Regions from separate parts of the Homo sapiens genome. Here region 2 is linked to region 1. The links come from fine-mapping of genetic effects on gene expression. A gene starts in region 1. The other region holds a variant in brackets. All regions are shown on one strand. Distances are from middle to middle. Region 1 holds the start of SLC7A10 (solute carrier family 7 member 10). Region 2 overlaps FAAP24 (FA core complex associated protein 24).

Region 1 (5,373 bases):
TATATTTTTAGATAGAAGTCCTTTATCGGCCATATGTATGGAAATAACTTCTCTCATATGTGGCTTACTCTTTCCTCTTTAATCATGTCTTTTGACTGACAGAAGTTTCTAATCTTAATGTAGTCCAATCTGTCACTTTCTTACTGTGTTTCTTATGTCTGTTTAAGAAAATGTATCTATTCTCTCCCCTGAGTTTTCTTCTAGCAGCTTTGATGTTTCACCTTTCACACGTACATTTCACATGTACATCACCTGGGACTGGTTTTAGGGTATAATGGAAGGGTGACATTAAAAGGGTTTTGGTTTTTTTCTTCAATATATAGATCCACCACCACTTATTGAAAAGCCCGTCCTTTCTCCACTGTTCTGCAATATCAACTTTGTCATAATAAACCAGGATGGGTCTGTTTCTGGATTTCTGTTTTCTTCCACCAGTAGATTTGTTTATCTTTGCATCAATGCCACACTGTCTTCCTTACTGTAGTATAAGTCCTCCAGATTTGTTCTTCTTCACATACTCTTTAGAATCAGCTTGTTGAGTTTCATCCCTCCAAAAAAGCCTTGTAATCAACAACAAAGTTGTCTGGTGCTTTGATCAAAATTACATTGGATGTATTTATCAATTCTATAAATCAATGTGGAGACCAACATTTTAAATTCCAATCCATGAACATGGTATATCCCTCCATTAGCTTATGTCTTTAACAATTTCTCTCAGAAATGTTTTGTAGTTTCTTGCATAAAAATTGTACACATCATTCACTAGAATTATTTTTAGGTATTTGATTTTATGCTATTATTAATTTCATTTTCTAATTATTTCTAGTATATAGAATACAATTAGTTTCTGTATATTAAACTTCTGTCTAGCGACTTTGCTAAATGAACTTATCTTCCTTAAATTAACCTGTAATTTTTTTTCTACATACTGAATCACATCATATGTGAATGGCAGCTTTATCTTTCCCTTTACTATCTTCATACCTTTTTACTTATTTTTCTTGTCTTATTGCTCTGGCTAGGACCTCCAGTACACTATTGTATAGAATATTGACAAGTGCCAACATCCCTTCTCATTTTCAATCTCAGTAGAAAAGCATTCACACTTTCACCACTAAACATGATGTCAGCTGTAGGGTTTTTGTTTGTTTCTTGGTTTCTTGGAGATTTGTTTTTAGGTAGATACTTTTATCAGATTAAGGAGGTTCTCTTCTGTTTCTATTTGCTAAGAGTTGTTTGTTTACATCACGGATGACTGTTTTTTGCATCTGTTGAGGTTTTCCTTTTTTCTCTCTATTAATGTGGAGAATCATGCTGATTGGTTTTTGGATGGTAAACCAATCCTACTAACCTTTTGTTCCCATTGAAATTTGCAGGTTCTAGTTCAATTCCACGAAAAGGACCTCCTGAGCTATGGGGCCTGGCTGACAACATACAAACTCCATCCTGTGCAAAGCCCTAGGCCGACCTTTCCCCCACAAACGCATACTCCACATTCCAGGTCCCAGAGAGACACCCTCGAAAACCACAGGCTTCAGAGCTGCGAGGCTTGCGCCAGCCCCTGCCCCTTGGCAAGCTGCCCCTGATTGCACCAGCCCTGGCTAGACCCTCTCCCAGCAGACCCTAGAATTGCGAGGGCAACTGGGGGGCTGGGGAGAGTCAAACCAGAAGGTCGAGGCCTCTGGCCCCTAACACCCGCGACAATCAGGGGTCTCCGGAGCCAGGGCTGCCCCTACCCTGCGCGAGGCTCCTTTAAGAGAGTCGGCCTCTGAATGGTCTCTGGGGCTGGAGGTGGAGGGCGCCAAGAATGCCGGTCTCCGACGACAGAAGCGAGAGGGATGCAGCTTCGCCGGGTGGCCTCCCCCTCGGCGTCCCACCAGCACGTCCACCCTGGATCCTCCCGCTCCTACTCCTACCCCAAGTCCCCGCCCCCAACTTCGAAGCTCCTGTGTGCCTGCAAACGCCGGCCCCGCCCCGCTCCCACCTCCAGGCCCTGCCGCTGCCAGGGACCCGCCCCTGCCAGGGACCCGCCCCCGCCCCGTCCCACCCCGGTCCACCCTGCAGCCGTCGGACCCCTGGCAGGGCCCCAGCAAACCCGGAGGCCGCCACTGGGGGGAAGGACGGGGCGCCCGGCGAGGCCTCATCCACATGCAGGGGACGGCGCGTCGCGGCGGCCGCCAGGAAGAAACAAAGGCTGTTCCGCCGCCGGCCGCACAGTGCCAGGCTCGCCCCGCCCGCCGCCCCGGTGGCCCCGACGCGGCCCCCCTGGATCTTTTCCGCCGGCCTCGGCTGCACAGTCCGGACGGCTTCCGGGAGGAGGCAGCCTCCCTCGGATCCCCGCACTCCCGACCCTCTCCCGCGACCACAGCCTCCTTCTCCGTGTCTCCCGGGCATTCCAGGTCGCCTGGCCTTCTTGAGCCGGGCTGGATCGCGCGGGACCTGCACCAGAGACCCGAGTTCTAGTCCGCTGAGCCCTCACTCTGACCTGGGACGAGGAGCCTGTAGTGAAGATCTCAGGCCAGAGGTGGCCCAGAGCCTGGTAGGGTGGGCGAGCCGTGTCCAGGACTCGTCACAGGTCTTGGGTCCCCGTGATGAGGATGAGAGCCCCCGGGATCTTCACCTCGACCCTCAGGCCTTTGATCCAGGGTGCATAGGACACCCAGACCCCTCAGAGGAGTTCCAGACCTCAACCCCCACCCCTCCTGAGGTTGTCCGCCTGGGAGCCTCAGGAGGCACGAGAAAGGGTTTGGTCTCAGCCCTGCACTTGCTCGGCGATCGCTACTGATCTCTGGGCTTCAACTTCCACCTGTAGAATGGACTCACCCTGGGAGCTGTCTCCTACACACACACACACACACACACACACACACACACACACACACACATCGTGCAGGCATAGAGTACTAAAGGGAGCACACACTGCATCCCCACACGCGGCCAGCTGTTATTCTTGCCGTCCCCCTCGGCCTCCCTGAGAGCAGGGATTGTCTTGTCTCGGAGCTCTGCTCCCCAACCCGGCCCCAAGAATGGATGTAACTCAGGCAACTGGAGGGTCCCTTCCTTCGCCCAACTGGGAAGTCCTTCCTAGATCTGCCCCAAGTCCTCTCCTTCCTTCCCAGGCCGGGACTGGGGGAGGGGGCGTTCCCTTTAAGGGAGGTGGGGGAGGGGGCTGTGGGCCGGCCCTCCTTCCGCCCCTCCCGGGCCCCCGCCGCCCGGGGCCCCCAGTCCCGGGCCCGGAGCCAGCGCATGCGCCCGCCTGTGGGCGCTGTCCCGGCTGCGAGGGCCGTGAGCTCACGGACCGACGGACCGACGGGCGGCCGGCCGGACAGACGGGGCAGCGCAGGGAGCGGGGACGCGGCGGGACAGCGACATGGCCGGCCACACGCAGCAGCCGAGCGGGCGCGGGAACCCCAGGCCTGCGCCCTCGCCCTCCCCAGTCCCAGGGACCGTCCCCGGCGCCTCGGAGCGGGTGGCGCTCAAGAAGGAGATCGGGCTGCTGAGCGCCTGCACCATCATCATCGGTGAGCGGGACCCAGGCGGGCGGGCGCCGGGCGGAGGCCGAATGAGGGGCGCAGCCGCTCCGAACGAGGGGCGTCCCCTCTCCGGGCGCTCGGACGGGTCTGCCTGGGGAACCTGCAGTCTGGCCTCAGAGAGCGCTATGACCGCGGGGAGGTCAGGGGCTGCTGGCCCAGGGTGCCAAAGCTCCGTGTTCCCACCTCCCGGCCGCCTGCACCTGGGGGAGTTTTGGGTCCCCTCCACCGCTGGACTCTTCCTCCTGACTCGATTTTGCTGCGGGGCTTTTGCAAGGCAGTTACCCTCAGTTTCCTCATCTGTGAAATGGCCATGACTGCAGTCCTGCGATTAGCGCAGGAACTTGACCAGTGTAGGGGCTGGTCAGGCTGCGGCAGGCTGAGCTCCCCAAGTTCTGTACTGTGGGTCAGTCTGAGTACCTACTGTGTGCAGGGTCCAGGTGCCACGCAGTGCAGTGACTTTATTCTTGGAAAGCAGGAGGGCCTATGAGCAGAGTGAGCAAGCGCAGCCTGCGCAGAAGGGACGGAGGTTCAGAGCAGGCAATGACTGCAGGGTTTGGCAGCAGGACCCAGGAGAGGGGGCGGGTTAGCCAGCAATTGGGGGCAGCAGTGGGCAGACCCAGCCTGCAGAAGGCCAGCTGCTCCCTGAGCTGGGATCCTGGTGGGCACTGGACACTCGCCTGGTCTGGAGGCCCTGGACTCCAAAGTCCCCACCTGAGAATGGGTCCATGTCCTGCCCCCACATAGGGGTTTCTGGGCAGGCAGAGAGCTCAGAGGTCATGGGAATGGCAGTGGTATTTTTCCACTCTCTGTCCCAAGTCATGGATACTGACTTGTTTCTTTGTCTACACAGAGTGCCTCTGAGCCCCTCCAGGGAGGGACAGGAGAAGTGGTTTGGGGGGTGAGTGACTGGGGCCTCGACTGTTCTCACCTTACCGCCAGCCAGTCTTCCCGGTCCCCTGCCAGTGAGAGCCACTTGTGTCTTCACTGCCTTCCCACCCTCAGACCCCTGGAGATGGAGAAAGTTTGGGGGCTCAGTAGGGCAGACCCAGGGTCTTCACCTCGTCCTCTCCCACCCCCACATTAGCAGCTCTTCACATCCAGAGTTGCCCCTGAACACAGCCCCTGGCCAGGTCACTCCGCCATCTCACCCCCTCCCCTTAGAATGCTGTCTCCCAGAGCCTGGTCCTGACCTGGCCCTGGGAGCTTCTTGGCCTAGGATGCCCCTGCCTGATGGACGGTCTGCTGGAAGGAAGGGCTGGTTCCAGGGATTTGGCCAGGGTGCTGGTTAGAGCTTTTTCTTGGCCCACACCCTCTCCAGGAACTGTCCTCCAGGGAAGGGGAAGCTCACACCATGAGTGGGTCATAGGATTGAGACCATGCCTAGAACCAGCTACAGTGCCAGGCAGGTGCAGAAAGACACAGCTCTGCCTGGGCTCCTCAGCTAAGCCCAGCATCCTTGACCTGTCTTCCTACTCTATCCCCTCCCCACATCCCATCCTCCCCAGGCCACAGGGAGGCTGCCTGGCTCCTTTCTCCCCAGAAAGGGGCCCTGGTGGTGGTGGTGGTGGTGGTGGTGGTGGTGGTGGTGGTGGTGGTGATGGTAGAGGTGGTGGTGGTGGGAGTGGAGAAGGCCAACTCCACTATCACCCTCCTTTTCCAGGACAGACTCTGTAAGTTTCCCATGCAGCCCAGGTCTGCCCTGACAGCTCCCCTACCCTTCAGTTCCTTCCTGCTGTGCCAGGTCCACTACCTTGGCCTCCAAACCTTGAACACTGAGCCAGGGTGAAGGGCCACTTAGCTAACCAAGGATGCTGGATTCAGCTACAGAACCCAAGCCCGG
Region 2 (5,373 bases), 250 kb after region 1:
AATTATGTCTGTTCAATTTATTTTTTGGAGACAGAATCCTGCTCTGTCACCCAGGTTGGAGTGCAGTGGTGTGATCTCAGCTCACTGCAACCTCCACCTCCTGGGTTCAAGTGATTCTTGTGCCCAGGCTCCAAGCAGCTGGGACTACAGACATCCACCACCACACCTGGTTAATTTTTGTATTTTAGTAGAGATGGGGTTTCACCATGTTGGCCAGGCTGGTCTTGAACTCCTGACCTCAAGTGATCCGCCTTCCTCGGCCTCCCAAACTGTTGGGATTACAGGTGTGAGCCACCGCGCCTGGCCAAACTTCGTAGTTTTTATCATCTATCTTGATGATGCCTGACGCCCTTTTTCTTACTTTTCTATGTGCAGCATAATAAGAGTGCCACATACTCCGTGGGAATGCAGAAAACGTACTCCATGATCTGCTTAGCCATTGATGATGACGACAAAACTGATAAAACCAAGAAAATCTCCAAGAAGCTTTCCTTCCTGAGTTGGGGCACCAACAAGAACAGACAGAAGTCAGCCAGCACCTTGTGCCTCCCATCGGTCGGGGCTGCACGGCCTCAGGTCAAGAAGAAGCTGCCCTCCCCTTTCAGCCTTCTCAACTCAGACAGTTCTTGGTACTAATGTGAGGAAACAAACATGTTCAGGCCCTGAACATTTCCGGTGCTGACTCGGCCTTAAACGTTTGTGCCATAATGGAAAATATCTATCTATCTGTTCTCAAATCCTGTTTTTCTCATAGTGTAAACTCACATTTGATGTGTTTTTATGAAGGAAAGTAACCAAGAAACCTCTAGGAATTAGTGAAAAAAGAACTTTTTTGAGGTGTGTTACTATACTGCTGTAAGTTATTTATTATATAAAGTATTGTAAATAGAATAGTGTTGAAGATATGAAATATGGCTATTTTTAATGGTGACAATTATGACTTTTAGTCACTATTAAATTGGGGTTACCTATATCAGTACAATTTGTAGTTGTTTCCAGGTTTGGCTAATAATCATTCCTTAACCTAGAATTCAGATGATCCTGGAATTAAGGCAGGTCAGAGGACTGTAATGATAGAATTAAATTAGTGTCACTAAAAACTGTCCCAAAGTGCTGCTTCCTAATAGGAATTCATTAACCTAAAACAAGATGTTACTATTATATCGATAGACTATGAATGCTATTTCTAGAAAAAGTCTAGTGCCAAATTTGTCTTATTAAATAAAAACAATGTAGGAGCAGCTTTTCTTCTAGTTTGATGTCATTTAAGAATTACTAACACAGTGGCAGTGTTAGATGAAGATGCTGTCTACAAGGTAGATAATATACTGTTTGATACTCAAAACATTTTTCATTTTGTTTAAAGTAGAAGTTACATAATTCTATATTTTAAGTCTTGGGTAAAAAAGTAGTTTTACATTTTATAAAGTAAAGATGTAAATGATTCAGGTTTAAAGCTCTATTTGACTTCCTTTTTTTGTTTGAGATAGCGTCTTGCTGTGTTGCCCAGGCTGGAGTGCAGTGGTGTGATCTCAGCTCAGTGCAACCTCCGCCCCCTGGGATCAAGCGATTCTCCTACCTCAGCCTCCCAAATAGCTGGGACTACAAGGTGCCCTCCAGCATGCCTGGCTGATTTTTGTATTTTTAGTTGAGGTGAGGTTTCACCATGTTGGCCAGGCGGGTTTCGAAATCCTGACCTCAAATGATCCACCCACCTCAGCCTCCCAAAGTGCTGGGATTACAGGCATGAGCCACCACAACCGTCCCACTATTTTACTTTTTAAAATGACATTCCTACTGATTGATTTTTATCTTGCTATAAGTTCGATGACACCGTGAATCTAATAAGGTTCACTGTTGACACAGTACAAGTTACATAGCTAAAATACATAGCATTGAAGACTAATTTTAAGGATTGACAAGAGTTTATTTTCTATTGTGCAATATCTTAAAGGAAGCAACCACCTTTGGGAAAGTGTATCTGCTGCTCCTAGGGCCATGCTTGTATACATATTTAAATAAACATATTCATTTACCCGAGTTAATATTTCTTTTTACTTTTATTTCATTTTCATTCCCTCCTCTTTCAAATTGTTTCTCCCCAATGCACACAGTTTCTAATGTTCTGATTTTTTTAGTTACTAACATTTCACAAAGCAGAACTTAAAAAGCTGTCAAGTTATCTTAGTATTTTCTAAGACAGATGGTATCTTTGTGCTTATTTTTTGTTTTTGTCTTTTTTTCAAGACAGGGTCTCGCTTTGTCACCCAGGCAGGAGGACAGTGGCGCAATTGTGGCTCATGGCAGCCTCAACCTTCCGGGCTCAAGCAATCCTCCCACCTCACCCTCCTGAGTAGCTGGGACTACAGGCATGAGCCACCATGCCTGGCTAATTTTTTTGATTTTTTTGTAGAGATGGGGTCTTGCCATGTTGCCCAGGCTGATCTCGAAATCCTGGACTCAAGCAATCCTCCCACCTCAGCCTCCCAAAGTGCTGGGACTACAGGTGTGAGCCACTGTGCCTGGCCTGTGTCTATTTTTTGAATGGGCAATTTGTACCTTTTGATCCCCAGCCCCTGCTTCCCTCACTAGATGCAGCTGCTGCCATCATTTTCTTGTATCCTTCCATTGTTGGGCCTTTCATATACAAACACAGCCTGTTCTGCCTCATGCATGTTGAGTTTTCAACTTTAAATTTTTTTTTTTTTTTTTTGAGATGGAGTCTCACTCTGTCATCCAGGCTGGAGTGCAGTGGTGCAATCTCGGCCCATTGCAACCTCCACCTCCTGGGTTCAAGCGATTCTCGTGCCTCAGTCTCCTGAGTAGTTGGGATTACAGGTGTGTGCCACCACACCCAGCTAATTTTTGTATTTTTAGTAGAGACAGGGCTTCACCATGTCGGCCAGGATGGTCTGGATCTCCTGACCTTGTGATTCACCCCCCTTGGCCTCCCAAAGTGCTGGGATTACAGGTGTGAGCCACTATGCCCGGCCGTTGAGTTTTCAACTTTAAGTGGGAACTTCAGACTTCATACTTTCTGTGTGCAGAAGACATATGCAGTGATTATAAACAAACTGTACATCTGCCAAAAAAAAAGGCCGGGGGGAGGGAGGAACAAAGGAAAGGA[G/T]GAAGGAACTGTTGCGCAGTTATTTATTTACATTGGAAACAGCCCTCGCAGTACGGGTATATGAAGGCCAGACCTGATGAACAGCAGGTGAAACTCTGGGAACCCAGGGCTTAGGATACACAGTGCTTCCTTGTACATTTGTTTCCTTCAGATGGTCACATCCACCACTGAAGCTTTTTAGAAGGCACTTTCCATGACAGATGCAGGTCAAGGTCGCACATTAAAATCGGCCCTAATGCTTTTTGCTGAGTGTGAGTCCCTGACTCTCTTGCGAAGATCCCACCAGCCCTTTTCGTCTTAGCAGAATGAAGGCAGTGCCCTCTGCGGCCCACTAACTTCACAAGCTGAACTCAGACGCTAAGGCAGGACGACCCACGGGCTCCATTCAAGCCTCGCCTCATCTTTCACTGGTTGCTGCTGGAGAAAATCCTTTTTCTTTTTTTTTTTTTTTTGTTGTTTTCTTTGAGACGGAGTCTCGCTCTGGTGCCCAGGCTGGAGTGCAGTGGCACGATCTCAGCTCACTGCAACCTCCGCCTCCCGGGTTCAAGTGATTCTCATGCCTCGGCCTCCCAAGTAGCTGGGATTACAGGCACCTGTCACCATGCCTGGCTAATTGTTCCTATTTTTAGGGGTTTCTCCATGTTGGCCAGGCTGGTCTTGAACTCCTGACCTCAGATGATCCGCTGTCTTCGGCCTCCCAAAGTGCTGAGATTAGAGGCGTGAGCCAGTGCACCCGGCCCATTCTCTTGGTTTTTAAAGCTGAAAACAAGATCCTGGTGTTTGTGGTCTCAGGAGAAGATGCCGTGGCCCTGAGGCCAGCCCTCACCTGGGCTGCGTGAAGAAGGCATGGATCTGCTGTGCCACTGCTTGTCCGACCACCTGCTCCAGTTCCCCAATGGAAGCATTACTCAGTTGCTGGATGCTTGGAAACTTCTGGAGGAGAAGGGGAGCTTTAACTTTTCCAACTCCTGGGATCTGCTGCACGGTTCGAAGGAGCGAAGGCTCAGACAGCAGCAGGGCCCGTTTCTTCCCGAGAAGAGGGTTCTTACTGGGCTCTTTGGTTTGCTCTTGAACCTGAACCACAATGAAAGCAACAGCACGTGAGCGCCCTCTGGAGGACTGGCCGTTTTCTTAAAATATGTTTTGTAGAAATTGCGTTTTTCCATTTGGCTCAGCTTGACTTAAGGGAACAAATGTTTTCATGTATCATGAATATAATTTCTCAGACATCAGTAAAATTATTGAAAGGTGAACCACACAAAGGAGTTAAGACATTAATTTACAAAAATGTGCGTTTTCAGAATGTTTAGAAAAACACACAGATGAATTCAAACACTTTCTGTTGGTCCATTAAGAAACATTTCAGTTGTGCAGGATTAAATGATGGCTACACCTAAACTAGGCCTACTTCACGCAGGAGCTGCAGGAAGCCTGCCTCAAAGGAGAAACCTGGTCTAGTTAGTGGTGGTTATACTAAGGCAGACAACAGTGTTATATCAAGGAAAGTTAGGAACGGTGACGCAAGGGATATAGTAGAGAGGGATCTGTGAACCATTCATGGCTGCTTGCATCTTCAATGTGGCTCTCAACTCTAGCTCCACATCAGAGGGGGTGATTTAAAAACAACACACACATAACAAAGAAAACAAAAGTGAAAAAAACAAACAACACACACACACAATTGATGTTCCCCATGCTGGGATCAGAGGCGTAAGCTACTAAACTGATTTTAAAAATAAGTGTTGGCGGCCGGGCGCGATGGCTCACGACTGTAATCCCAGCACTTTGGGAGGCTGAGGCGGGCACAACACCTGAGGTCGGGAGTTCGAGACCAGCCTGACCAACATGGAGAAACCCCGTCTTTACTAAGAATACAAATTAGCTGGGCGTGGTGGCGGGCACCTGTAATTCCAGCTACTCGGGAGGCTGAGGCAGGAGAATCACTTGAACTCAGGAGGAGGAGGTTGCAGTGAGCCGAGACTGCATCATTGCACTCCAACCTGAGCAACAAGAGCGAAACTCCATCTCAAAAAAAAAAAAAAAAGTGTTGGTTGGTGCGGTGGCCCAGAACTTTGGGAGGCTGAGGCAGGCAGATCACCTGAGGTCAGGAGTTTGAGACTAGCCTGGCCAACATGGTGAAACTCTTATCTCTACTAAAAATACAAAAATTAGCCGGGCATGGTGGTGGGTGCCTGTAATCCCAGGTACTAGGGAGGCTGAGGCAGGAGAATCGCTTGAACCCAGGA

The links.
Region 2: its variant is fine-mapped to the expression of SLC7A10 in whole blood (TOPMed, PIP above 0.99).

The regions. Positions count from the first base shown.
Region 1 is chr19:33,223,701-33,229,073 of GRCh38, reverse strand. It overlaps SLC7A10 (solute carrier family 7 member 10), which reads left to right and starts at 3,224. Exons shown (of 11, transcript NM_019849.3): 1 at 3,224-3,521. The coding sequence starts at 3,371.
Region 2 is chr19:32,975,259-32,980,631 of GRCh38, reverse strand. It overlaps FAAP24 (FA core complex associated protein 24), which reads right to left. Exons shown (of 5, transcript NM_152266.5): 5 at 2,403-4,201. The coding sequence ends at 3,950. RHPN2 (rhophilin Rho GTPase binding protein 2) reads left to right here. Exons shown (of 15, transcript NM_033103.5): 15 at 376-2,040. The coding sequence ends at 636. Among named protein-coding and RNA genes, the nearest start is that of FAAP24, 5.7 kb to the right of the region's middle. The variant G/T (reference allele first, on the strand shown) is at 3,128.